Homo sapiens: one gene and its partners. The protein of the gene in region 2 purifies or fractionates together with the protein of the main gene of each other region. This does not show direct contact. Each region holds a gene or a part of one and is shown on either strand. Other genes may lie near its edges. The genes, in order: NMT2, ANGPTL4, PM20D2 and AASDHPPT.

Region 1 (7,413 bases), on a different chromosome or scaffold from region 2:
CCTGGCAAACATGGTGAAACCCCATCTCTACTAAAAATACAAAAATTAGCTGGGTGTGGTGCCACGCGCCTGTAATCCCAGCTACTTAGGAGGCTGAGACAGGAGAATTGCTTGAATCCAGGAGGCGGAGGTTGCAGTGAGCCGAGATTGCACCACCGCACTCCAGCCTGGGTGACAGAGAAAGACTGTCTCAAAAAAAAAAAAAAAAGGTACATTTTCCATGAAAAACAAGATATAAAGACAGTGAGACTCAAGTATTTTATAATACTTACGCCATTGCTTTTAATTAAACATAAAACATCTGATATTTCATTCATGGACTCTTAGCATTATCTATAAAACGAAATACCCTTTTTAGTCCATGAAGAAAATTCCATGAAAATAAAAGAACAGCATATGCAGTTTTACATATTTAAATACTTACATTTTGGTGCAAAACAAGACTCTAATTGGGTATTTTCCTTTTATTTGAGGCTTTAGTTTCAACTTAATATGTCTAAAAGGACTAGTAAATACATTATACTGAGTGGTGGGGTAAATGAATTCTTTCAGGCCACAAGGGCACTATTCAGTAAATTACCTCTCTGCACTGGCCGCTGCCTGGTGGCCTCAAATTGACAAACTGCCTTTAAGAGGTGAAACATGTTCTTACTGATTCATCCAAAGGCTCATTATTTGTTATTTATTTAAACTGATGGGAATGAAGAGGCCGAGTATAGAAAAAGAGTCTTTCAAATTTTAACATTTACAAACTTGAGCTACTTAAAGAAAACCTAGGTTTCTACTGCGATATCATCAGTACATGAGCCAAATAAAACACATTTACTCCCCCAAATTTGGCACACATTGTCTAAATTCAAATCCAAACAGGCAATCCAAGGAGAGCAGTCATTTGGAGTTTTCCTAATCTCCTTACATTTAAATAGAGTACAATACATCCATTATGTTAATCTTTTCCCACTAGAAGCTATTAACATGGTATCTGCTCTTGGTGAAAACATTTCAGTCCATGGGGCATCTCTAAATTTTGATTAACCTTTCTAATATATAAAATGTGCTGATATACAAAACTGAAAACTTCCGAAGGCAGCACAGATGCCTCTGGGTGCTACTCTGGGAACTTTAGCTTCTTGAAAGGTGTCGGGGGACAGGCTCAGATCAATGCGCACACAGATGAGGAATTCTTTGTACCAGGGGCATTCTCAACAGTGTAAGCAAAGAAGTCCTAATCAAGCCCCCAACCTAGAATATCAATCAAAGGAGGAACAATAAACAGAAATTACAGCAGAGAAGATAAAAGTCCAGGGTCTCTCCAGAAAGAAAACACAGGTACTGAAGCTAATCCATCAGCTTGCATCTGCACCTGGGCCCATTTCTGGCAATAGAACTACCGTTTCAAAAACATATTTGTATTTAGCTATCTATCACAAACACGTTTCTATCCCTGCATAAACAGGGCTCAGGTTCAGATTCCTATGCAATTTCCTTTCCTCTCTTTAAAAAAAAAAATATTCTAGACTCGAACATTCGATACTTGCAGCCGCCACTGAAGTATTCACGGCAAAGATAAAAACAACTTGCAAATGGGAGATGCACATAGTCAGCTTTTCTTTTTCTTCATTTGTTAATATTTTATAATGAATTAGAGGTCAGTCAAAAGTCCCTTTCTATAATAAATCTTAAAGTAGACAAGTAGAATGCAAATGATTTACACTTTCAATGATCAATCATTTCAAGAATCTCTCTACGAACTGAGTAAACCATCTGTGACTCAGGCCTCCCTATCATGTTTTTTAAGCTGACCCACTTCTCCATCACTCACCATGGTTCGAAAAATCTCACTTCTAAGGGTGTAGCAAGAACCGCTCTGTGCCAGCGCATAGTTTGAATCCAATAGGGTAAAAGGGTAATGTAAACAGCACTTTAAAAGGACACCAGTTTTTATTTAAAATGACCCACTGCCTCTAAAAAGAGAGCATCAACACCGGCCTTCACCTGAAGCAATCCTTTTCTCCAACAGAAGAGCAAATCAAGTCTGCAGGGTTCGGGGGCAAAGGGAAAGGATTAAGAAATCCGATCAAGTGTGAAAATGCGTGGTGCATCGAGTTTTGGAGATCAAATACCAGCTTTGCAAACAGGATACGGCCAGGTCAGCGGGAGCCCGGTTCAGGGGATCGGCCCTGCTCTGAAGAGCTCTAGGGACAGGCGAGGCGGTGCAAAGCCCAGTATCCCCAGCAGGGGCCGGGCCCGGGACCCCCTCGGCGCCAGAACTTTGCGCAGTTCGCCGCCTGCGGCCCCGACACCATCGGGGCACCTCCACGCCGCTCCACCCACGTCTTTGCCCATTCTTTTCGGGTGGCGGCTGCGGAGAGGGAGTCTGAAGGGACTTAACAAGGATGGCAGGGAGCAGAGGAGGGCGACCTCCTACCCCAGGCTGCGGCCGCCACAAAGGGAAGGGCGTAGCGCCTCTCCTCGGCGCCCACCGGAGCCACCCGCGGGCGAGGGCAACAGGCGCCTCCTGGGCCAGGCCGCCGGCGGGGATGGGCGAGGCTGGCCGGGGGCGCGCGGCAAGTGACAGTAGCGTCTCCCCGCCCGGGCCCCAGCCTCCCCGCCCACCCCGGGCCTCGCCTCCCCGCGCACTGCACTCTCCCGCGAGCCGCGCGCCCCGGACCTCACCATGGGCTCCGCGCCACGGAGAAGCCATCGCGGGGCGGAGCGGCCGAAGAACCCCCAGTCCTGGGAGCCACCCCCGAACGGGAGACCGTGGCGCGCGCGGTCCCCGCCCTGTCGCGCCCGGTGCGCCAGCGCGCCGCCCCTACCCTTTGGCGTGCTCCGTCTCCTCCTCATTGTCCCCGTCTATCCCGCACGTGTCCTGGTCGTCCAGTTCCAGGCTCTGCTGGCTGGCCGCAGACTCGCTGTCCTCCGCCATCGCGGCGGCGCTGGCTGGGGAGGCGGTGCTCGGGGCCGGGCCGGAGCGGCCGCAGCTCCCTCTAGTGCCTCCCGCCGTACTGCTTGGAGTCGGAGCCCGGGCGCTACGCCCCGCCCCGCCCCGCCCGCGCCCCGTCCCGCCCTCCGTCCCGCCCCCTCCCCGCCCTCCGTCCCGCCCCGCCCTCCATCCCCGCCCCTCACCGTCCGCGCCCAGCCCGCCGGCCCCGCCCTGCCCGCCGGCCCCGCCCTGCCCCACGGGCTTGAACCCCGCCCACCTCTTCGTCCCTCCCCACCAAGCCCCGCCTCTCCCCGTCCCGCCGGCTTCAATCCAGCTCTCTAACCCCGCCCGCCTCTGAGACCCCTCCCCTCCAGCCCCGCCTTTCCCCACCCTGCCGGCTTCAAACCCGCCCTCTAACCCCGCCCACCGCCGCAGCCCCTCCCAGATGGCCCCGCCCCTCCCCGCCCCGCCAGCTCCAACCCTGCTCACCCTGGCCAGCCCTGCACAGGGCCGAGTCCTGTACATCCAGGCCTGCGCGGTGCCTCTGCCTGGGGCTCGGCTCTCAAAGCTGCAAACGTGCAGACTTGACATCCTGAGTGGCGGCATTTTTGGAACACAGGCCATGCGATTTTACTTCTGGACGAATTAGGGAGCGCTCCCAGCCCGTGCAGGGGTTTTTCCCACTCAGGAGTAGGCACTCAGGGATGGGGCTTTCCAGAAACTCTTCCCGCCCCTCCACATACATGTTAACAATTCCATTTCGCATCTATCTATCCATCTAATACATTATAAAATCAAATTCAAAGTCAAAAACAGTATTTCCAGCCCTCCACCGCCCTGTCCCAACCAGGCTTGCAGCACTAAAACTCTTGACAGAAATTTTTGAGCTACCCCTGCTTTCCCTGGACACTACTACGGACGGCTCAGACCAGAACAGACATCTTGAGGGACTTGGGGACGTGTCCACGATGCTGGGGGATTGGACAGTTTCAGGTAGGCTACCCTGGCTTTCCCAAAGTCAAGGTCATGACCTAGATTTCCAAGCAAACGTGCACGGCCTTCTGTGCTGAAATTGTCCGCTGTCTCTCTCAGAAGAGGGAAGGGAGGCATTCTGTAGTACTGCCAAATAGAAGACCGGTGAAGTTCAGCCTCTCTTATTTGCTACTGCATTCTGTACAGAGCAGTCCTGTCCTTTGCTTTGCTGAGATGATCTTGTTCAAATGTGCTGCTAGGCCACCGGAAGTCTCCGCAGTGGTTTTGCAAAGATAATCATCAGAACCCGCTCAGTGAGGAAAATGAGACTTTAAAGAGCCACCTGAATTTTTTGGTGTGGGTCCTTTTTTTGCAGAAGATACTAGGAGCATTTTATGGCTTTTTTCCCCAAGGGAGACTATGTTTTTAAAACGCAATGAGCTAGAAGTATCAAAAGATGAAAACTGCAGAGCGATTTCAAAGCCCGTCAGCTGTTTGGCATTGAGACAACTAAAATTCTGTAAGAAGGGCAAATGGGGTCAAAACACAAAAGGAAATACAATATTGCCTTTAACAACGGCAACTATTTCTGAGGCAAAATGTCACATGTCACCTCTGTGAAACTTTAGGATAGAAGCAAATACAGATGAGTGAGGTTCCTGCAGCTCATCTCTGTGAACATGGATTGTTGGAGAACCCGCAGCCCGCTCGGGTAACCAACAGGAAACTGGCCAGGAGCAAGCCTATCAATCAAATCATCCACTCTAACCTGCCAGAAGGGTTCTCTAAAAGAGTTTTTAAAACTTAAGGCAAAGGAAACTCAGCAGTCATATATTTATCTGAATTTTCAAGAAGTTTTGACTAAGAACTGCTCTAAAAAAGAATAAGAAAACAAATAATCCTGGAAAAATAAAATGAGGGCATCAAAAACCAGTGAAACACTAGAAAACAATGACAAACAGGGAACATCTGTTCCCCAGAATGGAAACAAGTTGGTACAGTACTGGATTGAAGTACATCGGTACAGTACTGGATTGAAGTATTATATAATACAAATGTTTTACAGCATTAATCTTTGGAAGGAAGGAAAAGTTTACAGATGACCCTGGGGCTTCCTAAATCCTACTGTCCCGTATAGAAACACTATGTTTCTAAATATTTTTACTTATTTCCCTGGCTTAATTTCAGAATTTGGAGAATTGGAACCAAGTGGCAACTTCCAGCATCTTAGATCTAAAGTTTATTTGGTGGATGGGAGCACTGTGAAATGGCTGCCAGTGTATTATTTTTTCAAGTTTCAGTTATTTATTAATCAGTGTAATCTCCAATAGATTACATCAACATGATTTCATTCATTTAGAGGAGAACTATTTCCTGGTGAAGTGGAAAATTGTGCGGACGGATTCTGGAAGACCTTCAGTCTAAAGCAGCTTTATAGTGAAACATTTCATTTAGAAATCTGGACCTTCTTTCTTCAGTTTGCTGTGATCCACATTAATTGAGTAGAACTTGAATTGATCATCGGGACCCAGTTTGTTCCAGGGATCTGGGTGATTCTTTCAGTCCCAACTAACATCTGGATTGAAAAATGCCAGACGCAAGAGATACAGTCCTGCTCCAGTACCTCTAGCTCCAATAAATACTAAGAGGGAGATCAAGTTTGGATGCTTCTTGGCCTGACCGATGATCTGGTGGAGCGTGTCTGCGGCAGAGGCCTCCAATTGGAAAGGAGAGAACCAGCCTAGCCACCAGGCCCTGGGCTAAGTAGTATCTTGCCAGTGTATTTTAAAAGGCCTTTGGGAATTTTCTATTCTGCCTGGCCCACTCCTACTACAGATGTAAGATTATAGTTGTACAATTGGTCTTGTTTCATTTAAATTGTTTTAACTTCTTTTTTAATTTTGGAAAAATACATACAACATAAAACGTACTATCCTAACCATTTTTTTTTTTTTGAGACGGAGCTTCACTCTTGTTGCCCAGGCTGGAGTGCAATGGCACAATCTCAGCTCACTGCAACCTCCGCCTCCTGGGTTCAAGCGATTCTCCTGTCTCAGCCCCCCAAGTAGCTGGGATTACAGGCGCCCGCCACCATGCTGGGCTAATTTTTGTATTTTTAGTAGAGACGGGGTTTTGCCATATTGGCCAGGCTGGTCTTAAACTCCTGACCTCAAGTGATTCGCCCGCCTCAGCCTCCCAAAGTGCTGGGATTACAGGCGTGAGCCACTGCGCCCGGCCTGGAGTGCTTTATTATGCAGTAATAACTAACCAACTTACAGAAAAACAAAGACCAAAAGAAATCCTTAGGCCGGGCGCGGTGGCTCACGCCTGTAATCCCAGCACTTTGGGAGGCCGAGGCGGGCGCATAAGGAGGTCAGGAGATTGAGACCATCCTGGCTAACACGGTGAAACCCTGTCTCTACTAAAAACACAAAAAATTAGCCGGGTGTGGTGGCGGGTGCCTGTAGTCCCAGCTACTCAGGAGGCTGAGGCAGAATGGCGTGAACTCAGGAGGTGGAGCTTGCAGTGAGCCGAGATGGCGCCACTGCACCCCAGCCTGGGTGACAGAGCAAGACTCTGTCTCAAAAAAAAAAAAAAAAAAGAAAAAAAGAAAAAAAATCTTAAAGACACTCCTTTTTTTACTATCACGATCACTATCTGTATATCTGGGTATGTCTGAAAAAGACTTATGCCAAACCATTAGTTTGCACTTTCCATTCTGGGTTCACAAAAGCAAAGCCCATTACTTTTGCAATACACTAGCTATTCTTGCTAGCTGGTTTGCTTTAGAGTCTGGCTGGATTTTATTTTATTTTTTAAGTGACTCCGTTTCTTTTTAATTTTTGAGGAACCCGGTAACTACCCTGCACCATTTGCAACTGTGCGTTGGAGAAGCTTTTCTCGTGGTCACTGTGAGGGTAATTTGCACCTCCTATTGCTTGGTATTCTGCTAAAAGGTTTTCATACTTGTTCAAACCAGCAGGTTGGTGCCACAGTGAGTATTGCAGATCAGCTGCATTTCAGAACTTCACAGTTGGTGAGTCTGTGTCTTGTCCCTGTAGGACAAGTTGGGGCTTGCGGGTGATGCCAAGGAAAATTCTAGAGGAAGCCGAACAATGCCACAGCAGATGGAAGTATGTGTTCATTTAGGAGGTGGAAGGTGCCTCCATTCTATAAATAGGGTCACCTTGAAACTGCACTGCTTGCCAAACTCCTTAAATGTGTTCAGGTTTTCCCCACGAGTATATCACTGGATAGTTTATTGCCAAACTTCATTAGTTATTTTATTGATAAGGATGATATATTACAGAAGTACACTGTCTCATCAGACATTTTTACTCGAAGTAGAAATACTAAAGGAGGCAAAAGGATCTGTTCTAGCCTGTCCACAATTAGAGCTTCTGGCCCTTTCAGGAAGAAAGGATGGAGGAGAAAGTAACTGATGAAGAAAGTGAGGGCAGTAGGTAAAGAAGAGGAAAGAGATAGAGGAAAATCAGGAAAGGGAGGAGGAAACA
Region 2 (7,786 bases):
CAGGTCTACAGTGCTGGAAGCCTGCCACTGACCCTAGGGTGTGAGAGGGGGATCCAAACTTTCACCCAGTTGGCTGTGGACAGCCACAGATGCAGGGAAGGATGAGGACCACAGAGAAACCGTGTGGGGCCGTGAACTTAGAGAACCGCGAGTCTGCATCGGACACACGTGGACATGCTGTGGTTCGAGATGAACGGAGATTTGGGAATAAAGCACCTACAACTTGTGGTGGCAGCAAAAGCCCACTTTCTGCGGTGGGGAGGGGGCCGGCGGGGGCGGGGAGGGAGGAGGAGAACAAGAGAGGAAGGAGGAAGAGGGGTCAGGGACCTGGAGCATTGGATTTGTAAGATACAAGAGTGTTTCTGGTCTGGGAGCTGGGGGTTCCCAGCCCTAATTCCCACATACCCCAAGACATTGTGGAGGGCCCAAATCTACAAACACTACTACCTGGCACCCCCTCCTCCATGACACCCTCCCCTAGAAGGTTCTAACCTTCAGGATGGCACCCCGAACCCCATTTCTACCTTCTCCAGCACCCCTGCAGCTCAAGTCCCTCAAGACCTCTTTCTCCACCTCTGTTCCAATCAGTGATCAGCAGGGCTTCAGGGACAGCCCACTGGCTTGCAGAGGAGAAGGGTTGGGTGGCCTGGCTGGGCCAGGTCAGGGCTGAGGAAGGAGGTGCTCCCATCAGCTTTGACCCAGAGACTGGTGAGCCCTCAGGGACTCCAGGCCAGGACATCTTCTCCTTAAGGTGGACCTGACAAGGAGAGGACCAGCAATGGCAAGTGGCGGGGTAGGGGTGGCCACCGGAGAGCATCGAGGGGCAGACACTCACGGTGCAGGCGGCTGACATTGTGAGCCGGGTCAACTGGCTGGGCCATCTCGGGCAGCCTCTTTCTTCGGGCAGGCTTGGCCACCTCATGGTCTAGGTGCTTGTGGTCCAGGAGGCCAAACTAGGATGGGACGGGAGGAGGGTGTCAGGTCCTGCCTGGCCCCACGTCCCCAGCCACACGTCCAGTTCTCACCACCTCCCTCTCAACCTGGGGTCCAGCTATCAGAGGGACCTTTTCTCCCTTGATCCTAGGGTTACCTGGCTTTGCAGATGCTGAATTCGCAGGTGCTGCTTCTCCAGGTGCCGCTGCTGCTGGGCCACCTTGTGGAAGAGTTGCTGGATCCTGCTGTTCTGAGCCTTGAGTTGTGTCTGGGGAGGGGTGAAAACCTTGGTGAGGACCCAGCTTGCCTACCCCAACCTCTTAATTCATCCACTCATCCATCCTTCCAAATCTCCATCCGCTGAGGCCAGGCAAGGGAGTCTTTCTTTTTTCTTTTTTTTCCCAATGACGGGGTCTCGTTCTCTCGCCCAGGCTGGAGTGCAGTGGTGCTGTCACAGCTCACTGCAGCCTCCAACTCCTGGGGTCAGGCGATCCTCCTGTTTTCAGCCTCCTGTGTAGCTGGGACTACAGTCATGCAGCTCTATGCCTGGCTTATTTTTTATTTTTTCAGACAGAGTCTCGCTCTGTCACCCAGGTTGGAGTGCAGTGGCGCAATCTTGGCTCACTGCAACCTCTGCCTCCCAGACTCAAGTGATTCTTGTGTCTCAGCCTCCCAAGTAGCTGCCACCACACCTGGCTAATTTTTGTATTTGTATTTTATTTTATTTATTATTATTATTATTTTGAGATGGAGTCGAGCTCTGTCGCCCAGGCTGGAGTGCAATGGCATGATCCCGGCTCACTGCAACCTCCGCCTCCCGGGTTCAAGAGGTTCTCCTGCCTCAGCCTCCCCAGTAGCTGGGATTACAGGCGCCCACCACCACACCCAGCTAATTTTTGTATTTTTAGTAGAGACGGGGTTTCACTGTGTTGGTCAGGCTGGTCTTGAACTCCTGACCTCAGGTGATCCACTGGCCTCGCCCTCCCAAAGTGCTGGGACTACAAGCGTGAGTCACCGCACCTGGCTTTATTTTTATTTTATCGCTATTATTTTTTTGAGGAGTCTCACTCTGTTGCCCAGGCTGGAGTGCAGTGCTGCGATCTCGGCTCACTGCAACCTCTGCCTCCCGGGTTCAAGAGATTCTCCTGCCTCAGCCTCCCAAGTAGCTGGGATTACAGGCATGCACACCATGCCAGGCTAATTTTTTGTATTTTTAGTAGAGACGAGGTTTCTCCATGTTGGCCAGGCTAGTCTCGACAGCAGGTGGAGGCTCCGTGAGCCACTGCGCCCGGTCGTTTTTTAATTTTATATTTATTTTATTTTATTTTATTTATTTTGTGTGTGTGTGTGTGTGTGTGTAGAAGAGACGGGGGTCTCGCTATTTTGCTTTAGGTGGTCTTGAATTCCTGGCCTTGAGCGAACCTCCCTCCTCGGCTTCCTAAGGGGGGAGCCCATCCCTTGACGCAGGGAAGCCCAGGGAGCCACAGTTGCGCACCCCGCCCCCACGCCCCACTCCTGTCCATACCCTTCCAAGCCAGGAGAGCCACTAGGGGCGCGGAGAACCAGCCCTGGGGACACGTACCTGCAGGCTGTGAAGGACCTCAGGGTCCACCCGGCTCTCAGGGGCTAACGGGAGGTCGGTGGACCCCTCGGTTCCCTGACAGGCGGACCCGCACGCGCTCAGGCGCCGCTCCAGCGCGCTCAGCTGACTGCGGGTGCGCTCCGCGTGTTCGCGCAGCCCCTGGCCGAGCTGCAGGAGTCCGTGCGCCAGGACATTCATCTCGTCCCAGGACGCAAAGCGCGGCGACTTGGACTGCACGGGTCCGCCCTGAGCGCTCAGTAGCACGGCGGTGGCGGCGCAGAGCATCAGGGCTGCCCCGGCCGTCGGAGCACCGCTCATCCTCTTAGGTAGCCTGGGAGCGGGGATTCGGGGACTCTCGGGGACGTTGGGGTTCCAGGTGCGAGGACTGGAGACGCGGAGGACCGGGGGTAAGACCCGCTTGGTTGCAGAAGCCGCTGGAAAGAATCGGATCACAGTCGTGTGAGGATCCGCTCAGCTCGGCTTCTCCCCGCCGCGCCCGAGGACGGTTTTTATAAGTTGGGTGCGGAGTGGGCGGAGGAGTCTTGGAGGCGGGGTGCGGGGAGTGCTGGGGGCAGGGCCTGTGGCCGGGGGTGGGGTCCTGTCCTCTGGAGGCCTGGTAGTCTGCGGGCTGGGGGATGCCCTGGGGATGCCAAACTGTGGCTCTCCCGCCCCCGCTCCAGGCTCAGGCAGGCCTTCCTCTACGAACCGTGGGAGACGTGACTCTTCTTTCCCCCACGGTGCCCGCCTCTAGTGTGAAATTGCAAGCCCCCTATTCCGCCCCCGCCTTACCCAGTGGCGGAGAGGGCGCACGCTTGAGGTCAAGACTTCCAGACCAGCCCGGCCAACATCGTGAAACCCAGTCTCTACTAAAAATACAAAAAAAAATTAGCCGGGCTTGGTAGTGCGCGCCTGTAGTCCCAGCTACTCGGGAGGCTGAGGCAGTAGAATCGCTTGAACCCGGGAGGTGGAGGTTGCAGTGCGCCGAGATGGCGCCATTGCGCTCCAGCCTGGGCGACAGAGCCAGAGTACGTCTCAAAATGAAAGAAGAGAAAAGAAAAGAAAAGAAAGAAAAGAGAGAGAAAGAAGGAAAGAAGGAAGGAAGGACGGAAAAAGAAAAGAGAGAGAGGTAGGGAGGGAGGGAAGAAGGAGAGAGAGAGAGAAAAGAGAGAGAGAAAGGAAAGAGAGAAAGAGGAAGGAAGGAAGGAGGGAAAGAAAGGAAGAAGGAAAGAAAGGAAGGAAAAGAAAAAGAGCTGAGTTCAGCGGAGCCCGGAACTCACCAAAAGTCCTTGCCTTGCGGAGGCTTCGTGTGACCTCCATCCCAAGACCAGGAGAGACTTTTCTGGGCTCGCATGTTCCTTCCCGTGAAAGGGTTCGTCATCGCAGCTGTGTTTATGAGATTCTTTGACTTCCATTTCTCCCCTGAGCCCGAAATTATGAGTGCCTTAGCGGCAGGACTTGGATCAGGGCCTCACCCCCATAGCCTACCCTCTACCGCCAGGGTCTTTAATGTCCTGAGCTTTGCCTATAATAAAGCAGGAACTTAGAGAACAGAAAGAGGAGACACAAGGAAGGGAGGAACCAGGGCGGTCGCCCATGACTGTGGTCGCAGCTACTTGGGAGCCTGAGGTGGGAGGCTCACTTGAGCCCAGGAGGTAGAGGCTGCAGTGAGCCACAATGGTGCCACTGCACTCCAGCCTGGGCAACAGAGTGAGATCCTGTCTCTAAAAAAGAAATAAAATAAAAGTCTGTGGCCAGGCGCGGTGGCTCACGCCTGTAATCCCAGCACTTTGGGAGGCCGGGTGGTGGGAGGGGGGGGGGGGCGGATCACCTGAGGTCAGGGGTTCGAGATCAGCCTGGCCAACATGGTGAAACCTCGTCTCTACTAAAAATAAAAAATTAGCCGGGTGTGGTGGCACGTGCTTACAGCTACTCGGGAGACTGTGTCAGGAGAATCGCTTGAACTCAGGAGACGGAGGTTGCAGTGAGCTGAGATTGCACCACAGCACTCCAGCCTGGGTGACAGAGTGAGACTGTGTGTCAAAAAAAAAAAAAAAAGTTTCAGACATGGAAGACCTTCCTCTTTCTCTCCCTCATTCATTCATTCACTCATGCACTGAACGAAGGTGCTGCTGCCCTCTAAGCCCAGCCCCTGTATGTTTGAAGTTCTCAGGCAGGTGGAGATACCCCAACATTCTGAGCCTGGGGTAGGGATAGAGTTGGGACAAAGGAAGTACTGAGTGAGGCTAAAGGGCTGGACCACATTCATTCCACAGGGCTAAGTGTTCATTCAAACTTGCACCGATCTCCTCTGCCTCTTCCCTACCCATTCCCCTATACCCTGTCAGGAAGGGGAGGCTGGCACAGAAAACCAGCCTGCCAGGAAGAACTCGGGGCAGGTTGGCTCAGAGCACTGGCAAGGAGAAGGGCATTGACTCAGCAGGGCTCCAAGCCAGCTCATTCTCTGGAATCTGAAACTGCACACCCAAGGGCTGACGTGCAGGCTGCCACTCATACACTTGGCCCCGTCAGCTGGGCCAGATGCCAGGACAGCAAATCCCTCCCAGCAGCAGTGGACAGGAAAGGGAGGGAGGAAAACCCCAGTGAGGAGTAGGTTCAGATGGTCACCGTCTGGCCTGTCCACCCCCAAGCCCCCAGCCTCTCTCTGAGTAGGGACACAGCTATCCCAGGCTATCCCAGAATGCAAGCTCCTCCTCTTCCCCACCTTCTTAAACTGAGAGAACTGATCAATTACTTCCCCAACCTGATGACCTTTTCATGATCTGATTTTCAGGGACTTCTTTGGAGCCATGTGTCCCACAGCACAAAACACATCACAGACCCAGGGTCTTAAGGGCACCTGCTGTGAGCAATCTACAAAAGAGTCTATACTGTCGCCTCAAGTTGGCTCTAGATTTTATTCTAAAAACTGCTCTTTATTTTTTATTTATTTATTTATTTATTTATTTATTTATTTATTTTTTGAGAAGGAGTCTCGCTCTGTCGCCCACGCTGGAGTGCAGTGGCGCAATCTCGGCTCACTGCAAGCTCCACCTCCCGGGTTAGTGCCATTCTCCTGCCTCAGCCTCCCGAGTAGCTGGGACTACAGGCACCTGCCACCATGCCCAGCTAATTTTTTGTATTTTTAATAGAGACAGGGTTTCACCATGTTAGCCAGGATGGTCTCGATCTCCTGACCTCGTGATCCGCCCGCTTCGGCCTCCCAAAGTGCTGGGATTACAGGCATGAGCCACCGCGCCCAGCCTATTTTTTATTTTATTTATTTATTTTTTTGAGATGGAGTTTCCCTCTTGTCGCCCAGGCTGGAGTGCAACGGCGCAATCTCCGCTCACTGCAACCTCTGCCTCCCAGGTTCAAGCGATTCTCCAGCCTCAGCCTCCCGAGTAGCGGGGATTACAGGTGTGCACCACCACACCTGACTAATTTTTTGTATTTTTAGTGCAAACGGGGTTTCACTATGTTGGCTCTGCTGGTCTCAAATTCCTGACCTCAGGTGATCCACCTGTCTCGGCCTCCCAACGTGCTGGGATTACAGGTGTGAGCCACTGTGCCTGGCCTAGCCTTTTTTTTTTTTTTTTTTTTGAGACAGAGTCTTGCTCTGTTGCCCAGGCTGGAGTGCAGTGGCCTCATCTCGGCTCACTGCAAGCTCCACCTCCCAGGTTCCCGCCATTCTCCTGCCTCAGCCTCCTGAGTAGCTGGGACTACAGGTGCCCACCACCACGCCCGCTAATTTTTTGTATTCTAGTAGAGGGGGTGGGGTTTCGCCATGTTGCCCAGGCTGGTCTCAAACTCCTAAGCTTAGGCTATCCACCACCTCAGCCTCCCAAAGTGCTAGGATTACAGGCATGAGCCACCACGCCCAGCCCTGTTTTATGTATTTTTTTTTTTTTTTCTGAGATGGGTCTCACTCACCCAGGCTGGAGTGCAGTGTCACAATCACAGCTCACCGCAACCTCAAACTCCCAGGCTCAAGTGATCCTCCCACCTCAGCCTCCCAAGCAGCTGGGACTATAGGCATGTGCCACCAGACCTGCCTAATTTCTGTAGATTTTGTAGAGACAGGATTTTTGCCGTGTTGCCCAGGCTGGTCTTGAACTCCTGAGCTCAAGGGATTCACTCGCCTCGGCCTCCCAAAGTGCTGGGATGACAGGTGTGAGTCACTGTGCCTGGCCAAAAACTGACCTTTAGAATGTGGCCTCTTACCCAGCAAAGACAAAGTCATCCTGATCAATTGTTCCTGGAGCACCTACTATATGCCAGGCACTGTACTGGGGCGATCACGGTGGGCAAGACCGGGTCTCCAATCCCAACGCGTGGGCTACTTTGGCCAACATAGTTAAAAATTGTTAAAATGACCAATTTTATATTATGTATATTTCTTTTTTTCTTTTTCTTTTTTTTCTTTTCTTTTCTTTTTTTTTTCTTTTTTTTGAGACAGAGTCTTGCTCTGTCGCCAAGGCTGGAGTGCAGTGGTGCAATCTCTGCTCACTGCAACTTCCACCTCCTGGGTTCAAATGATTCTCCTGCCTCAGCCTCCCGAGTAGCTGGGATTACAGGTGCCCACCACCACGCCTGGCTAATTTTTGTATTTTAGTAGAGACGGGGTTTCGCCATGTCCAGGCTGGTCTCTAACTCCTGACCTCAGGTGATCCGCCTACCTCGGCCTCCCAAAGTGCTGGGATTACAGGTATGAGCCACTGCGCCCAGCCTGTTATGTGTATTTCACTACAAATGTAAATGCCATTAAGCTAGGCAAGGTGGCTCATGCTTGTAATCCCAGTACTTTGGGAGGCCAAGGTGGGAGGACTGCTTGAGCCCAGGAGTTCAAGATTGGGTAACATGGCAAGACCCTGTCTGTACAAAAAATTTAAAAAATTAGCTGGGGCCAGGCTGGGCACGGTGGCTCATGCCTGTAATACCAGCACTTTGGGAGTCCAAGGTGGGCAGATCGTGAGGTCAGAAGTTCGAGACCAGCCTGACCAACATGGTGAAACCCGGTCTCTACTAAAAATGTAAAAATTAGCCAGGCGTGGAGGCGCGCGCCTGTAATCCCAGTTACTCGGGAGGCTGGGGCAGGAGAATCGCTGGAACCCGGGAGGCAGAGGGTGCAGTAAGCAGAGATTGCGCCACTGCACTCCAGCCTGGGCAACAGGGCGAGACTCTGTCTCAAAAAAAAAAAAAAATTAGCTGGGGCCCGGCATGGTGGCTCACACCTGTAATCCTAGCACTTTGGGAGGCTGAGGTGGGTGGATC
Region 3 (7,956 bases), on a different chromosome or scaffold from region 2:
TTGGTGCAAAGTATGTACTAAAGACACTATAAAAAGCTTTTCCCAATTTTACAAGTCAACTAATGGCAAAGATAAAAAAAAATACTACAAGTTTAGTCCCTCAAAATTTGTTAGGATTTGTTTCAAAAAGGTTCCTCTCGACTAAGCCTTTCAGTGTATGTATGTATATAATTATTCTTAAGTACTTTACGAGTCAGAAACTTTCTGTTAACTTACTACTTATCCTCACAACAACCCTGTGAGGTAGGTGGGTGATCTCTATCATCATTTTACAGGGGGTGTTTTTGAGGAATTGAGTGAAGTGTCTTGCCCCAGGTCACAGAGCAAGTCTTCAGGCAGAATTAGGATTAGATGTCCTGATCTTCTGGCCTAAACTCTGATTCCTTACTGGGCTACCTATTTTAAAAGTCTGAACTCATTAATCCTTTATGAAGAACATTAAACAAGTCTTAATGCCACAGTTAGAAACAGCCAACTATTACACAAACTTACTAATTCGATTCCACCAGTTCAACCAGGCAGATTTATTGGTCACCAAACACCTAATTAAACAAAAGAGAACTTTACAGAATAAACATTTTACTTTGATATTTAAGCTTAACTGCTTCAAACAATTTTAAAAATCAAAATAAACAACTAATATATTTTCAAGATCATGTATAAGAACACAATGAAACAAGCTGGAAAAGTCTTGGCTTGCAAAGGAAATCAACTTAAATTCCATTTTCAGATAATTAATAACTTAACCTTGCTAAAATTGAGAACAACCATTTGAAGTTAGAAGAGTGGGCCGGGAGCGGTGACTCATGCCTGTAATCCTAGCACTGTGGGAGGCCGAGGTGGGCGAATCACCCGAGATCCGGAGTTCGATACCAGCCAGGCCAACATGGCGAAATCCTGTCTCTACTAAAAAATGCAAAAATTAGCTGGGCGTGGTGGCACACACCTGTAATCCCAGCTCAGGAGGCTGAAGCACGAGGATCGCCTGAACCCGGGAGGCGGAGGTTGTAGTGAGCCGAGATAGGACCACTGCACTCGGCCTGGGCGACAGAATGAGACTGTCTCAAAAAAAAAAAAAAAAAAAAAAGAGTGTACATTTCTCAAAGTTTAGCTTTTTTTTGGCGGTTCTACAGTGCTCAAACTCTGACATGAAGCCGCCGCTCTTTTTTTTTTTAAGAGGAGGCCTCGCTCTGTTGCCCAGGATGGAGTGCAGTGGCGCGATGTCGGCTCACTGCAACCTCTGCCTCCTGGGTTCAAGCGATTCTCCTGCCTCAGCCTCCCGAGTAGCTGGGATTACAGGCGTGAGCCACCACGCCCAGCTAATTTTTTTTTTTTTAATATATTTTAGTAGAGACAGAGGTTTCACCATGTTGGCCAGGCGGGTCTCGAACTCCAGACCTCAACTGATCTGCCCACCGCTCTTCATTCTTGACCCTTAACTCATTAAATACGATATGTCTCTCGCTGACTACTCAGAACCTTTAAAAACGTGGTTGAAGCGAAATCTCTCCAGTGTTTGTGACATGGCAAAGCATGCTTCCCCCAACCCAAACAAAAACCTAACAAATGCAAAAACGAGCCTCCAGAGACAGAAAAAAGAAGGCAGCTAAAGTGAAAAAGCCACAAAAGATGTAGTGTTAGGATAAAAGAGGAAGGTTACTGACACTGGGGGAAATGAACTAAAGAGTATGAAAATAAAACATTTGTTTTCCCCTTAACTGAATGACGATTGAATCTTAGCTCATAGTGTAGAATATACCATCTGGAAAAGCAGAGTAAAACAGGATTAAACTTGCCCTACGACAAACATAAACGACATTTCCCTGTTTAAAGAGTCGAGGTATTTCTTAAAATCATAAAACAAAAAAATTAAGACTTAAGGATGAACTCATCTATGTATAATGCTCATTCACTTCCCCTTTATTTGTATACTTCTAGGGGTCTGGTGGTTCTAGCGACTGAAAATTCCTATCCAAATACCAATGACTTGAATCACATTTTCTAGGACTGCCACAAACAAAAGATTTATTTGGAGACGAATAAAAAGGGGCCGTAGGATTACCTACAAGAAGTTATTTCCTCCTGAGATTGATGGCACAACCTTGTCAGCAAATTGCTGTTGCCTCTCTCAGTTACCAAAAATAACCCGTAACAAACACCAGGCTTGGGTGTAAGTTCTTTCCTAAGGGAACAACTCAGCAGAGCTGTTTATAACTAGAGAGGAGGAAACAATAATCTGCAAGATGTCGCCAGGTCGGCAACGCGAACTGACTTTGACTGGGGGTTCAGCTCTGCTCCTGCGCCGAGGCGAGGACCGCAGGTTTAGCGCGGTCCCACACACACCTGCCCCGGGCGGGAGGGCACCGAGGCGCGCGGGACGCACGAGAGTCCCGCCCTTCCCGGGTCGCCCCCGACCCGGGCAGTCGGATAGGGTCCCGCACCCGGGCCCCACCTCACCTTCACGGGCGGAGGCGGCCTGGGGAGGCCCTCTAAGGCCCCCCTCACGCCCAGCGCGGCCGCCGCCCCGACCTCAGCGATGAGGTTGTGGCCGCAGGCGTGGCCGATGCCGGGCAGCGCGTCGTACTCGCAGAGGAAGCCCAGGTGCAGCGGGCGTGGCGTGGCGCTCGGTGCCCGGGCCTCCGGCGGCTCCCACTCGGCGCGGAAGGCCGTGGGCAGCTGGTAGTGCGGCTGCACTGCCCAGGAGGCCGCGGGCGGCTCCCGCTCGAAGAAGTGCGTCAGCACGCGGTGGGCATGGTGCTCCTCGTAGGCCAGCTCGGGCTGGCTCCAGATCGCGCGGCTCAGGGCCCCCAGCCGCTCGGCCGCCTCGTCGATGCACTCCGCCGAGCGCAGCTTCAGTAGCTCCAGCTCGGAGCGGCCATTGCACGCGCCCCCTTCCACGGGCCGCTCCCCTCCGGGCCTCATGCTGCCCAAGCCCGCTGCCCTCTGCGCCCTCTCGCTCCCTGGCTCGGCCGCAGGTAGCGACCGCCCGCGCACGCGCCCAGAGGCCTCCAGGACCCCGGCGGAGCGCGCACGCGGCCACACAGCTCCCAGGGCACCACCCCCAGTCCCGGGGCCGCCCCCGGCGCCGCGCGGGAAACGCTGGCGGCCGCTCGTACCCTACCAGGCGCTCTGCCCCGCCGTGGGGTTTTGGGGGTGCTGTGGAGAAGGCAGGGCTCGGGACTCTTCCACCTCCTTGGCTGCTCTGGCCTTTGAGTTATGCTCTAAGATTATCGATTACTTTTCCGTTGTTGCTTATTTCCCACAGCAGCAGAATGAGAACGGTTATTAGTTAATAGCCATCAGAGACAGACCAAGTGGAACACAGTCCTCGGAAAAACGCCACTCTGTAGCATTAGTAATTAAAACCTCACAAGGTTTGTATTTCCTGAAGGAGGCCGTCAGTGTCAATGCTGTACTAACGACGGTACTGTACGTAAGTTTCGGTACTGCCCCCACTTTCTTCTCCTTGACATTGTATTACTAAAAGCTGCAGCTACTCTCTACAGTTTTCTCATTGGTTACTAATGTCTGGAACAGCAGCTAGATTATGCAGTAAGCTCTTGGTATGTATTAGCTATTATATAATAATTTATTTGAATAGAGTAGAACTAAAAATTTGAAATGAGTTAAAACCAAAGAGTTAAAAGATTTATGGTAGTAAATATTCATACTGTTTTGTTGATTTGGACAGTTGTCTTGAACAGCTTTGAAAGGGAACATATGACAGGTTTCGTTTATAATTTTAATTGATGCTGAACTCCACTAACATGATATGTGCAGCTGGTGTTACATTATAACTGAGTTTTTTAATTACCCAGTGAAGAAATTCAAGATGTCATGCTCTTGTTTTTCTCCAGAGTGAACCACAAAGTCTGAAAAACTGTTGTTGACGGTATGCCTATTAATAACACTGTAGATGTTTATATTCTGAGGTTTTCCACATATTAAAAGCTTCTATCAGCTCTTCATACCCTATCATCTTTCCTTAATTTGTCTCAACTATGTTAAATGGGACACAATATATTAATGTGATAAACCAAATGAATATTTTGAAAATAAGTCTAAGGGAAGCTAACATGCACGAAGACTATCAACTACTGTTTTTACTACTCTATATGCTAATAATACCAGAGTAAATGTCACATTCCATTCACGTCTGAAAACTTTCTTTCTCAGTTAACACTCCAACAAAAACTCAGCTCTAAAAACAACAAATGTGTTATTAAATTCCTGGGCCCCCTTGGCGATAATAAATCTTTCTCTGGTATTCTGCTGAAGAAAATTACCCTGTATCCACGAGATCCAATATTATCCTGCTCAGTTAGTTGGCTAAAAAAAGGGGAGAAGGGGGGATTGGAGAGCAAAAGCAATAGGTGACATTTGTAGAGCAATTACTCTGTGCTAGGCACTGTTCCAAGGGCTTAGCATTTGTTAACTCATTTAATCCTCACAGCAAACTATGAGGTGGTTAATGTGGTTATTTATCTTCATTTTACAGATGTATGTCCAAGATTATAGAGCTAGTAAGTAGTGGACCCACTGTAGAACAGAAGCCAGAGTCAGCCTCCAGTGGCTGACTTTCAGCCACCATGGTCTATTGCTTGTGTAAACAGACATGCAAATTCATAAATGCATCTCCAGTTTATCTATTCAAATCAGAACCCACAACACTCATTTTGAATAAATTTTACTGCAGCAACTCTGCCTGCTGACATCAGTAGAACCCATGTTTGCCCTCCTCAGGCATCAATAAACAGCAACAGAAAAGGGATGCATATAATTTCATATAGAAGCTGCTATTTATATTGCTTTGCAGGAATTAACAAAGCTGCCACTTGAGGTAGAGGAAAGACAGATTCATTTCAAGCTCTGTTCCTTGTGTATATATGTGGGTGGGTGGGTGGGTATACATGCCCACAGGCACGTATGTATTCAGTTTCTACTGTTGACACCTTGTATTTCTTGCTCATGGTATTTTGCACCCTTGAATTCATTTATTTGATAAACTGTGATAACTTGCTGACCGTTTATCTTCCCCTCCAGGCTTTAAACTCTTTTGTTTTCCCACTGCATTCCCCAGCACCTAACATCTTATGGTCAGCATTTCCTCTGTGTTAATAAATATTTGTTGGCTGATTATTCTTCTTGAATCTAATAAACTAACTGAATAATGGCAGCAATTAACCATTAAACGACACTGACTACCAATAGACATTGTTATGCTTCTTCCTAGACTTCTCAGTCCTTTATGTGGAGCTGGGGGCAGGAAGAATTGCTTCTGGAAGCTGATGGAGTTGGACATGTGGCTTTCTAGAATCTGGTCAGCTCATAAATTCTTACTATTACTTTCATTTGTACCCATAATATTCATACAACTGTCTACCCTATCTATGTGCTACTGGTAAGGAACCTGTATGTTTTTATTAGAAACAAAAAAAAATGTATACAAGCTCCCTTCCTTTAGCTGGTGCTGGATCTGAGGAAACAATACAATATCCAGAATTTAGTATTAAGATGTATAACCTTTTTGGGGGGGTGAGAGGAGTGCAGATAGTTCTCTCTTGAGGACTGGTTTTAAAGTATATAAATGTTCTTTCTTGGCTCCTGATGAGAAAAAAGGGGAAAAAATATATAAAGATTCCTCTTCTTTCCTGGCTGCTTAGAAAACCAGCTGTCATCACAACTGACTCAATAACTTTGAGAACAGGACATTCATGACAAATGAGTGCTGTGGTGGAAAGAGTAGATCAAAAATTTCCTTTACCCTGGAAAAGCAACTAAAATACAGCCAAATTGTACAACTATACTGGGTATTATTTTGGGCTTCAGATTCAGAACTCCTTTTGAAAAGGCAGCAGGCTTTTGTATGGTTTATATTCTTTGAATTAAGATAGAAATAATAAAATAAAATCCCCAACATGGCAAAGCATGAGCTCATGGCAAAGCATGAGCTAAATGAGAAAAAAAAGTTTTTGAAAACAGAAAAAGGAATGGAATGAAAAATAAAATGAAGAAAATTAAAGGTAGAGAAAAAGTAAATAGAAGTACCAGAGAGCTTCAGTGCAGGATTTCAGGAATGAAAAGCAAACAAACAAAAATAATTGTGGGGGGCCGGGCGCGGTGGCGCACACCTGTAATCCCAGCACTCTGGGAGGCCGAGGTGGGTGGTTCACGAGGTCAGGAGATGGAGACCATCCTGGCTAACATGGTGAAACCCCGTCTCTACTAAAAAATACAAAAAATTAGCCGGGCGTGGTGGCACGCACCTGTAGTCCCAGCTATTCGGGAGGCTGAGGCAGGAGAATGGCGTGAACCCGGGAGGTGGAGCTTGCAGTGAGCCGAGATCGCGTCACTGCACTCCAGCCTGGGTGACAGAGCGAGACTCCGTCTCAAAAAATAATAATAATAATAATAATTGTGGGGGAAAGGAATAAAAAGTGCAAAAATGATTTAATCCAAGGAGAGAGTGCAGATATTTCACCAAAAAAATCAAACTTATAATACCTTCAAAATATATGATATTTCCAAAAGTGCATGTGAATCCAGCCTACATCGTTTCAGTTTAACAATACTTGGAACTACAGCAATTTTCTCCTGAACAAAATGCTGGCCACTGCACGATTTGAGGACTGCTGCTGCCAGCATGGAGAAGAAGCAAATCACAGTGTCACTTTGGTATACTGGTCATTTACAACATTCTCCTAAGCATCCCCAGACACACATGCAAACTTGGTTAACTCCAGAAACTTCTCTAGCTGAAACAAACACGTAACACGCACTAGATAGCACATGTAAAATCAATCTGGGCTAAGGTGTTGGAAGAGCTGGTTGTCATATGGCAGAAAGCAGACAACTAAGAGAGTAGGTGAGCAGAAAGGTGAATTTGATTGGGGATGAAGGGACATAGAGGAAGTGTACAACACATTGCTAAGGAATTACAACTTTAGCTGGTTTTGGTGGCTCATGCCTGTAATCCCAGCACTTTAAGAGGCTGAGGTGGGAGGATAGCTTGAGCCCAGGGGTTCAAAACCAGCCAGGACAATATAGGGAGACCCTGACTCTACAAAAAATAAAATAAAATAAAATAAATAGTAAATAAGCCAAGCATGGTGGCACACATTTGTGGTCCCAGCTCCTCTGGAGGCTGAGGTTTGAGGATCGCTTGAGCCCGGGAGGTCAAAGCTACAGTAAGCATGATTGCACCACTGCACTCCAGTCTGGGCAACAGAGTGAGACTTTTGTCTCAAAGTAAAATAAAACTTGGACAATGGCTAAACTATTGGATGTTATTAAGCAGGAGAGAGACAAGATCAGAAATTTGTTCTACAAGAATAATTGATGACTATTTGGAAGATGAATTGGAAACAGACTTAGGTCTGAGATAAGTTAAAAGCTTTTGCAGGCCAGGCGTGGTGGCTCACGCTTGTAATCCCAGCACTTTGGGAGGCCGAGATGGGCGAATCACTTGAGGTCAGGAGTTTGAGACCAGCCTGCCCAACATGGTGAAACCTCATCTCTACTAAAAACACAACAATTAGCTGGGTGTTGGGGCGGGCGCCTGTAATCCCAGCTACTCAGGAGGCTAAGGCAGGAGAATCACTTGAACCTGGGAGGTGGAGGTTGCAGTGAGCCAAGATTGTGTCACTGCACTCCAGCCTGGGTGACAGAGTGAGACTCTGTCTTTAAAAAATAATTTAAAAAATTAAAAATAAATAAAAGGCTCTTGCAAAGTCCAAGGATTCCAGAAACATTCCGTGGGCAGAAATGGCCAGACTTAATTCCTCACTGAATGTCTGTTTAGGTGAAGAAGGTGCTCCAGAGAAAGGGGGAAAGAGAACTGAAGTTTCTCGGGTTAACAGCTGAGTGAATGGTAAAGCCATGAAACAAAATAGGGGAAATAAGAGAGTGAGGGGCAAATTGATGGATGTGCATTAGACACGTGGAGAGGAGGTAGAT
Region 4 (7,161 bases), on a different chromosome or scaffold from region 2:
TTTAAAAATAGCAGTATATGCATCATAGGGTAGTTGAGAGAATTAAATCACAGAATATGTCTAAAGCACTATGTAAAATGCCATGACACGTGGTTAAGTGTTCATTAAATGTTAGTGATGATGACAAATATACAGCAGTTAAGAGAACCTGTATTTAGTATGTATTAAATTGCCTGGGTACATTCAACTTCACCACAAATGTTAGTGGTCCTTAAAGCCACCACTAACAAATTTCTAAGGCAATATATAAGCAACTTAAATATTTTAATAATGCTTGCTCCTCATTTTTACTTACATAAATGGGCTAAAAAGAGATGTATTTAGATGCAGAACAAAGAGTCGCCCGTTGGTATCCACTGGGGACTGGTTCCAGGACCCTCCTCAGATACCAAAATCTGCGCATGCGGCCCTATGGAACCTGCATATATGAAGTCAGCCCTCCACATCCTCAGGTTTCATATCCTGCAAATACTGAATCTTGATACACGTTTGATTGTGGATGCAGAATCTATGGGGACAGAGGGCCAACTACTGAAAAAAATTCACATGAGTAGACCCATGCAGTTCAAACTTGTGTTGTTCATGTGTCAACTGTATACGTTATCTCTACATAAGGACTACAATGTACTTTACTATTCAGATTCTTTTTTAAAAAACAAACAATTAACTGAAAAATTGTGGTTAATGTTTAAGTGAAATAAATTGAAGTATAATTCAAAAAAAATTTCACTTAATATTTCACTTTACCTCTAGGCAAAGTTATGGATCCCCAGTAACGGATAATCTATTATTTATGTGTAAGTCTGTAAATATTCATGGAAATATACCCTTTTCAGATTTATGCTCTCCATTACCTTTGTGTACTAAGCACATTTTCCCTAAACTGAAATATCTCTAATACATCTCCTGGCCTGAGATTACTCAATAGCAATAGAACTGAGGCATCGAGACACTTAACTGCCATACTAGAAAAATGCAACGTTACCTGGAAAACTAGTCTTCATTATATCAATTCCAACTTGCAGCTCAGGTTCAGCAGCAAGCACTGCATAGTCTCCTTGATGAGAGATGTTAAAGTTGAAATTCGGGTAAGGATTCGATGAGTCCTTTGCAAGAACTGGTTTTCCTTTTGCAGTTCTTTGCAAACGAATATGATTCCAAGGGATATTCAATTTCTCTGCAACTAATTTCCTTATCATCAGACGACCAGCCTGTTAAGTACATAAAACATTTGGTATGTACTGATGTCTACTAAAGATACAAGCACACTGTATGCAATAGTACTTTTTTTTGGTTTCTAAAATTTTCATTTTTAAAACTTTTCAAAATACTTAAGTATTAAACACACGTTAATTAAGACTTAAGCAATGCTTAAGTAGATAAAAAGTTAAAGCCCGCCTTAGCAATTCCCTCTCCTTTGCTAGTGACCAAAGTTAACAGCTGGCATCCTGTCAGTCTTTTCTGTATTTAAATATATGTGCATTTACATGTTTTTGCTAACTCTACATATAAACACAAACATGAGATTATACTTATGCAGTATTCTACCACATATAAGCTTTAAATTTATAAGTATTGGGAAGTATTTTATGTCTGTACACACACGTCTGGTCCATGCAGTTTTAACTGTAGCATATTTCATAATATTATTTCCCCTTTATTGGACATTTTAGGCTGGCTCTAGACTTGCTGTCAAAAACAACTCTGCAGTGAGCAACCCTACTGTACCTACATCTGTGCATATGTATTTCTAGATCCCATATATTGATCACCCAGCTTCAACAATTAGCAAGGCATGACCTATCTTGTTCTGCTCTCTCCCACCTCCAATTATTATTTTTTAAATAATTACTAAAAACACACACACAAAAAAACAAGAATATAAGATGACAAAGTATATATTTTTAAAAATATCTTTCAGGTTTTTTTCTTCTTCAATTCTAACACTGACTTTTAAAAACTGCAGGCTTTTAAATGTAGCTTATTTTACAATTCCTTACAAATGAGTAAAAAATTTTCACCAATGTGCCTTAAAAATTATCAACTAGTCTACATTTCAAACAGAAAGTGTTTCAATATGGGACATTTTTAAGAAAGGACTGTCTTTTAAATGATGGTAATTCACGGTTGTTTCAAATTGCACCATATTGTACAGATTACTTGTTTTGAAATCCAGTTTTCCATTTGTTGCTTCAAAATACATAGCTAAAATAAATAAATCTACGTAAAATACTGTTTCCCATGGCATCTAGTGAGGAAGGTATCCTCTCTGGCTTCAATTTCATTGGCTTCAATCCCGGGGAGCGCAGGGCTACAAACTAAATCATACTGTCAATAATTTCTAGGGCCTACCACGTGCAGGGAGTCCTTGGAGAATGATGGGATATTTAACAGGCAGAATAAGCATAGGCTATGAACGCACACAAACAAAAAAAAATAACATTTAAAGATAAAGACATAAAAACATTCATTACAGAAAAACCCAATTTTGTCGGCCTTCCCTACACTTATTTCATGGTTTAGGAGGGTCTCCATTTGAAATAACAAGGGGAAAGAGATAATGTTTACAGCCATCGCGGCCTCCAAGGCGGTTACAAAGGCCGTGGAAACCAGGCCGTGCGTCGCCCACAACTCCGCAGCGCCGGCTGCTGTCGCCCGGGCCGGCCACAGGCTCCACAGCGAGAGGGTCGCGGCCAGCGCGGGAGTGTCGGGTCTCCACAGCCCGGCCCGCCTCCCCCAAGATCTGCTTCCTAGGCTCTAAATACCAAAAAAGACCTGTAGTACCATGGCTGCCTTAGCGTCCCGGGCAAAGACGAACTGGCCAATGCGCTCCTTCTCCTCGGGCTGAATCGATCGCACTGCCAGCAGCCATTCGGCTCGGCTCGGCAGCCAAGTGCCGCAGGAAAAGGCCCAGCGCACGCCCTCCATGGATGGCACCAAGCAGAACCGTTTGGCAGGGAAAACCATACACTGAAAGCGGACCTCGCCGCTATCTCGGGCCTGATGGCGCGGACGCAAACGTGGCCCCACCCCCTTCTTCCCGGCGTCCGTGCGCAGGGGACGGGCCGTCGCTACGCAGACTGGCCCACCGACAGCCCTCCCAGCCCGCCCCCGACTCAGCCACCTCCTCTCGGAGAAAGCAGCTGGGGGCGGAGACGGAGATCAGCCCTGCGCTTTGCGGCATTGTATGACGTCAAGTAGGCGAGGCTTCGGAGGCGAGCGAAGGGCGGGACCAAGGCCAAGAGCCCGACAGTTACGCCACTCACACTTGCGGAAGAGTTAACGGGACAGCGGTGCAGGCCAATCGCAACCAGTCCTCTGGAGGCAGGGAGACTGGGGTGGAGACTTCGGAGACTGCAGTTGCAGGTGGGTGAGCTCCGGGGTCTGAGGGAGGAGTGGGATGGTAGCCCTTATTCTCAGGGTCTGAGTTGGCCCCTGTGACCCACAGAGAAGAGAATGTCCTTGGCTTCAGCTGCTTCGTGTACGGGGCACGAGAGGTTTCCATCTCTAGGAGGGGGTCTGCAGTGGTGCCCCCTGCAGTTGTGCAACGCATCAGCCCTGAGTTCCTTCTTTCCCTGCCCCCATCCGCATCAGCCTAAGACCCACCCTCACACAGTACGCTCCCGACCCTTAGCAGCAGCCTACCTGAAACCCTCCCTCCGAAGGCCGAGCAGAGGCACTATCCCCAGTGCGCAACACTGACCCCGCCTGGATCCGAGGCTGCCAGCGAGCAGCTGAGCTAATGCTGGCTGTTTATTTGGGGCGATGAAGCGACCCAGGTGCTGTTTTGCTATTGCCAAGCCTGGGCTAGAGCACTAGCGAGAAAACAGGATTCCATTGTTGAGGTATCAGTGTTTCCATCATGACAGAGGTCCTTGCTCTAACAGCAACAGAAACAAGTAAATAACTTTGCTCAGTTATTTTCTCAGACTTTGCGAAGGGTCATATTGATGTATGTCTGTTTCCTTAGTTGTTCCGTGTAGGCTGTTGTTGACTCTCGTATGAAAGCCCACGCGATCCAAGTGCCCTGCAGGTTTTGGTCCAGGGAAAAGTTGGTCTCTGCAGATGACTGTAAATGACTACCTGGAGGTCGATTAAAGTGCGGTACTGCGGGATTCAGCCGATTTCCTTCTTCCTCTGACTGCCCGGAAATATCAGCCAAAGGCCAGCGGTAGTAATTAACACAATTACCTGCCTATGATTTCTGTCCTATTTAAGATGGGTTCTATTATGTTTTTATCTATACTTGTCTTCATTAACTTTTCGTGATATCATAAGCCCCCCGAATCCCTCGAAAGTAGATGGGATTCTGAGCACACACACACACAAATTCAGATCCCCAAAGGACAGTAAAACGAATTATTGGCTTAATATATCATCTTAGCTAACCAAAAGCCTGTGTCAGCTGCCATGTTGAAAATCTGCTTACCAGCTGCAGGGAGCTTACAATCTGGTAAGGCAAATAAATCATACGCATAAAAAGTACAATAAGAGACAGTGTAAAGATACGTAAGTGATACTAATACCCATATCAGCAATGATCATAACTCACTTCTCCATTTTTAACTAAGAATCATATAACCTTTCCTTCTTGTCGTTTTAAACTGATTTTTATAACTTTGATACATTACGTTTCTGTTTCCAAAACACTTCTGTGTACGTTATTGCACATGTTCTGTGCACTAGTTATTACTGATGGAGACAATGAGCTCAGAAAGAGAATTTGTTTAAATTCAGGAATTCATATCCCATTATTTTACCATCGAGCAAGATCTCTGTGTATTAGATCTATGGAGCCTAATACACAGACAGTAACGTAGGGATTATTTGTACTTGGTCTAGAATCTAGAATATTCTCCCCTTCTCCCATTATCACATTCCTTGTTTCCTCTGTATCATTCAGGCCCAAATCTCATACCAAACAGAATGTCTCTGTTCACCTAGTCTAAAATAGCTTACTCTCTCCACTTCCAAACCTCAGCCCCAAACCTATCACCCTGTGAACATATTTTATAGGTTTGTTTAATCCCCTTCCCTGTGTGGTTTTACAAATTCTCCAGAGCTTAGCTTAAACCTTCTCTTAGGGCCTACTTCAGAGTACCTTTTTCCAAAACAGTATTGTTTATGTAATTCATTTGGCAGTTATTCTAGTATTGCCTTATGACGTCTCTCCTATTGTCCTGAATTATTTTCATGTGTGTTATCTTGCAAAATAGAATGTACAGTACTTGAGAGGGAATGTCATGTATACCTTTTACAAATAGTATACATGAGTAAATGTTATTAATGACTCCACAATAGATTTATTACTGTCAAGGGTAACACTGCTTTTTATATTCTATCTGCCTTTACTTCCCTCACTTTTATTAAGGAAATATAAATATGCAGTTCATAACTTGCTTAACTATATTAAATGAACCCAACAATTTTATTAAAATATTTTTTACTGCATTGGTCAGGGGAAGAAGAGGACTAAAGTAATAGGGGCTCACTCAGTCTGTAATGATCATCTTGCTTGGTGCTGATCTGTGGCTTCTTAGCAGGATTCTGAGGGACTCGTATTCTATTTCCAGCTCTACCACCAATTGTCTGTGTGACATTGGTCACACAGGATCCTATGTGTGACATAACCTCTTCCATGTATTAATTTCAATGGAAAGGCATCGGATGAGATCATCTCTAAGTCTAGGTGTTTTTTAGATATACTCACTAACTTTTTATTGGGTCACAAACTTTATTCTACCTCAAACCCTTCTTTTTTCCCCCAAGACTTATTTGAATAGCTCCATAATTCTACCAGTTTCTCAAGGAAGAAACCATGATGCTGCTCTTCTTTGACTCCCTATATCCAATCCATCTCCAAGTGTTTTTGGCTCTATTTCTAAAATACAGAAAAATCCATTTATTTCTCTTTATTCCCACTGTTAACAATCTAGTATAACCCACCATCATTTTTCATCTGAAATACTAATCAGTTTTCTAGCCTGCCTGAGAAAGGGGAGCACTCTCTTCCAATGTCTTCTATGCCATAAGCACAACTTGCTTTCAGAGCTAAATCTAGAAATCTATGCCCTTAATTCTTATGTTACATTGCCCTCTAATTAGACTGAGAAGGAGAGGCCAGCAAGGTAGGAAACCTGAAGAATGTTGTGGCACAGAAACTAAAAGACGAGTGTTTCAAGGACTAGTTAACAGTGTGAATTATCCTAAGAGGTGAAATAAGATGAGGAGAGAGAAGTGAGAATTTACCTTCAAGATGGTAGTGTGGTGACATTGACAAGGGCAGTTTTAATGGAGTAAAAGAAAGGAATTTTATTGTAGTGGGTTGAGACGATAACTGGAGGTGATGCTACCACAGAGTGTCCTTTAAAGAAGTTTTTCTGGATTTAGGAAGTAGAAAAATGGAATGGTAGCTAGAGGGAATAAAAGGTCAAAGGACAGATTTTTGTTTGATGTTTGTTTAAAGATGGAAGATACTAGAATTTGCATGCTAATGGAAAATGTCTAGTAGGGTGGGAGAAGCTCTTAATGTATGAGAAGGAAGGGGTATGTGTGTGGGGGGGGGTGTTCGGCATTCTAAAGTAGACTCCAGGGTAGAGGACCTTGTCTATGTTGTTTTTCGCTGTATTTCTAGTATCTAGAATAGTACCTGCCACAATATTTGTTACTCCATAAACTGTCTAATATTTGTTGAATAAATGAATGACTTGGACCCTACTTCTCTTACCTCCTTTCAATTCATTCTTGACATATTAGCTAGAAAAATATTTTTTAAAAAAATGATGTCATGTCACTGTCCAATTTAAAGTAATCAGTCGTTCCTATTTCACTTAGAATAAAATCCCAGCTCCTGTGACCCATAGCATCCTGACTGAGGTAGCAACTGCCTTCTGCAGCCCTATCTCCTAACCCTCTTCCTTTCATTAACTACTCCAGCCACACTGGCCGCCTTTAATTTCCTAAAACTGAAGGACTCCTTTACCCCTGTAGGGCTTTATATGTGATTTCTTCCACCAACCCCTTACCTTCTTATCATTCAATTCTCAAATGACACTTCAGAAAGGCTTTCCCTAATATTGTAGTGGCTGAAAGCAAGGGCTCTTGAGCCAAACTGAGTTCACATACCAACTCCCTGCTTACTTGCTATATGATCTTAGCCAA

The links.
Region 1: the proteins of ANGPTL4 (region 2) and NMT2 purify together in Homo sapiens (affinity purification with mass spectrometry; 2 studies listed by BioGRID and IntAct, with this or other methods). This does not show direct contact.
Region 3: the proteins of ANGPTL4 (region 2) and PM20D2 purify together in Homo sapiens (affinity purification with mass spectrometry; 2 studies listed by BioGRID and IntAct, with this or other methods). This does not show direct contact.
Region 4: the proteins of ANGPTL4 (region 2) and AASDHPPT purify together in Homo sapiens (affinity purification with mass spectrometry; 2 studies listed by BioGRID and IntAct, with this or other methods). This does not show direct contact.

Annotation. Positions count from the first base shown.
Region 1 is NC_000010.11:15,165,684-15,173,096, forward strand, and holds the start of NMT2 (glycylpeptide N-tetradecanoyltransferase 2), read right to left. Parts: upstream 3,011-7,413; 5' UTR 2,930-3,010; coding exon 2,820-2,929; intron 1-2,819.
Region 2 is NC_000019.10:8,359,369-8,367,154, reverse strand, and holds the start of ANGPTL4 (angiopoietin-related protein 4 isoform a precursor), read right to left. Parts: upstream 3,001-7,786; 5' UTR 2,834-3,000; coding exon 2,516-2,833; intron 1,202-2,515; coding exon 1,091-1,201; intron 954-1,090; coding exon 836-953; intron 1-835. UniProt on the Homo sapiens protein: Mediates inactivation of the lipoprotein lipase LPL, and thereby plays a role in the regulation of triglyceride clearance from the blood serum and in lipid metabolism. May also play a role in regulating glucose homeostasis and insulin sensitivity.
Region 3 is NC_000006.12:89,141,111-89,149,066, reverse strand, and holds the start of PM20D2 (xaa-Arg dipeptidase), read right to left. Parts: upstream 3,013-7,956; 5' UTR 2,923-3,012; coding exon 2,458-2,922; exon of another isoform or gene 2,201-2,457; intron 543-2,200; exon of another isoform or gene 1-542. UniProt on the Homo sapiens protein: Catalyzes the peptide bond hydrolysis in dipeptides having basic amino acids lysine, ornithine or arginine at C-terminus. Postulated to function in a metabolite repair mechanism by eliminating alternate dipeptide by-products formed during carnosine synthesis.
Region 4 is NC_000011.10:106,073,517-106,080,677, reverse strand, and holds the start of AASDHPPT (L-aminoadipate-semialdehyde dehydrogenase-phosphopantetheinyl transferase), read right to left. Parts: upstream 3,017-7,161; 5' UTR 2,968-3,016; coding exon 2,785-2,967; intron 1,212-2,784; coding exon 986-1,211; intron 1-985. UniProt on the Homo sapiens protein: Catalyzes the post-translational modification of target proteins by phosphopantetheine.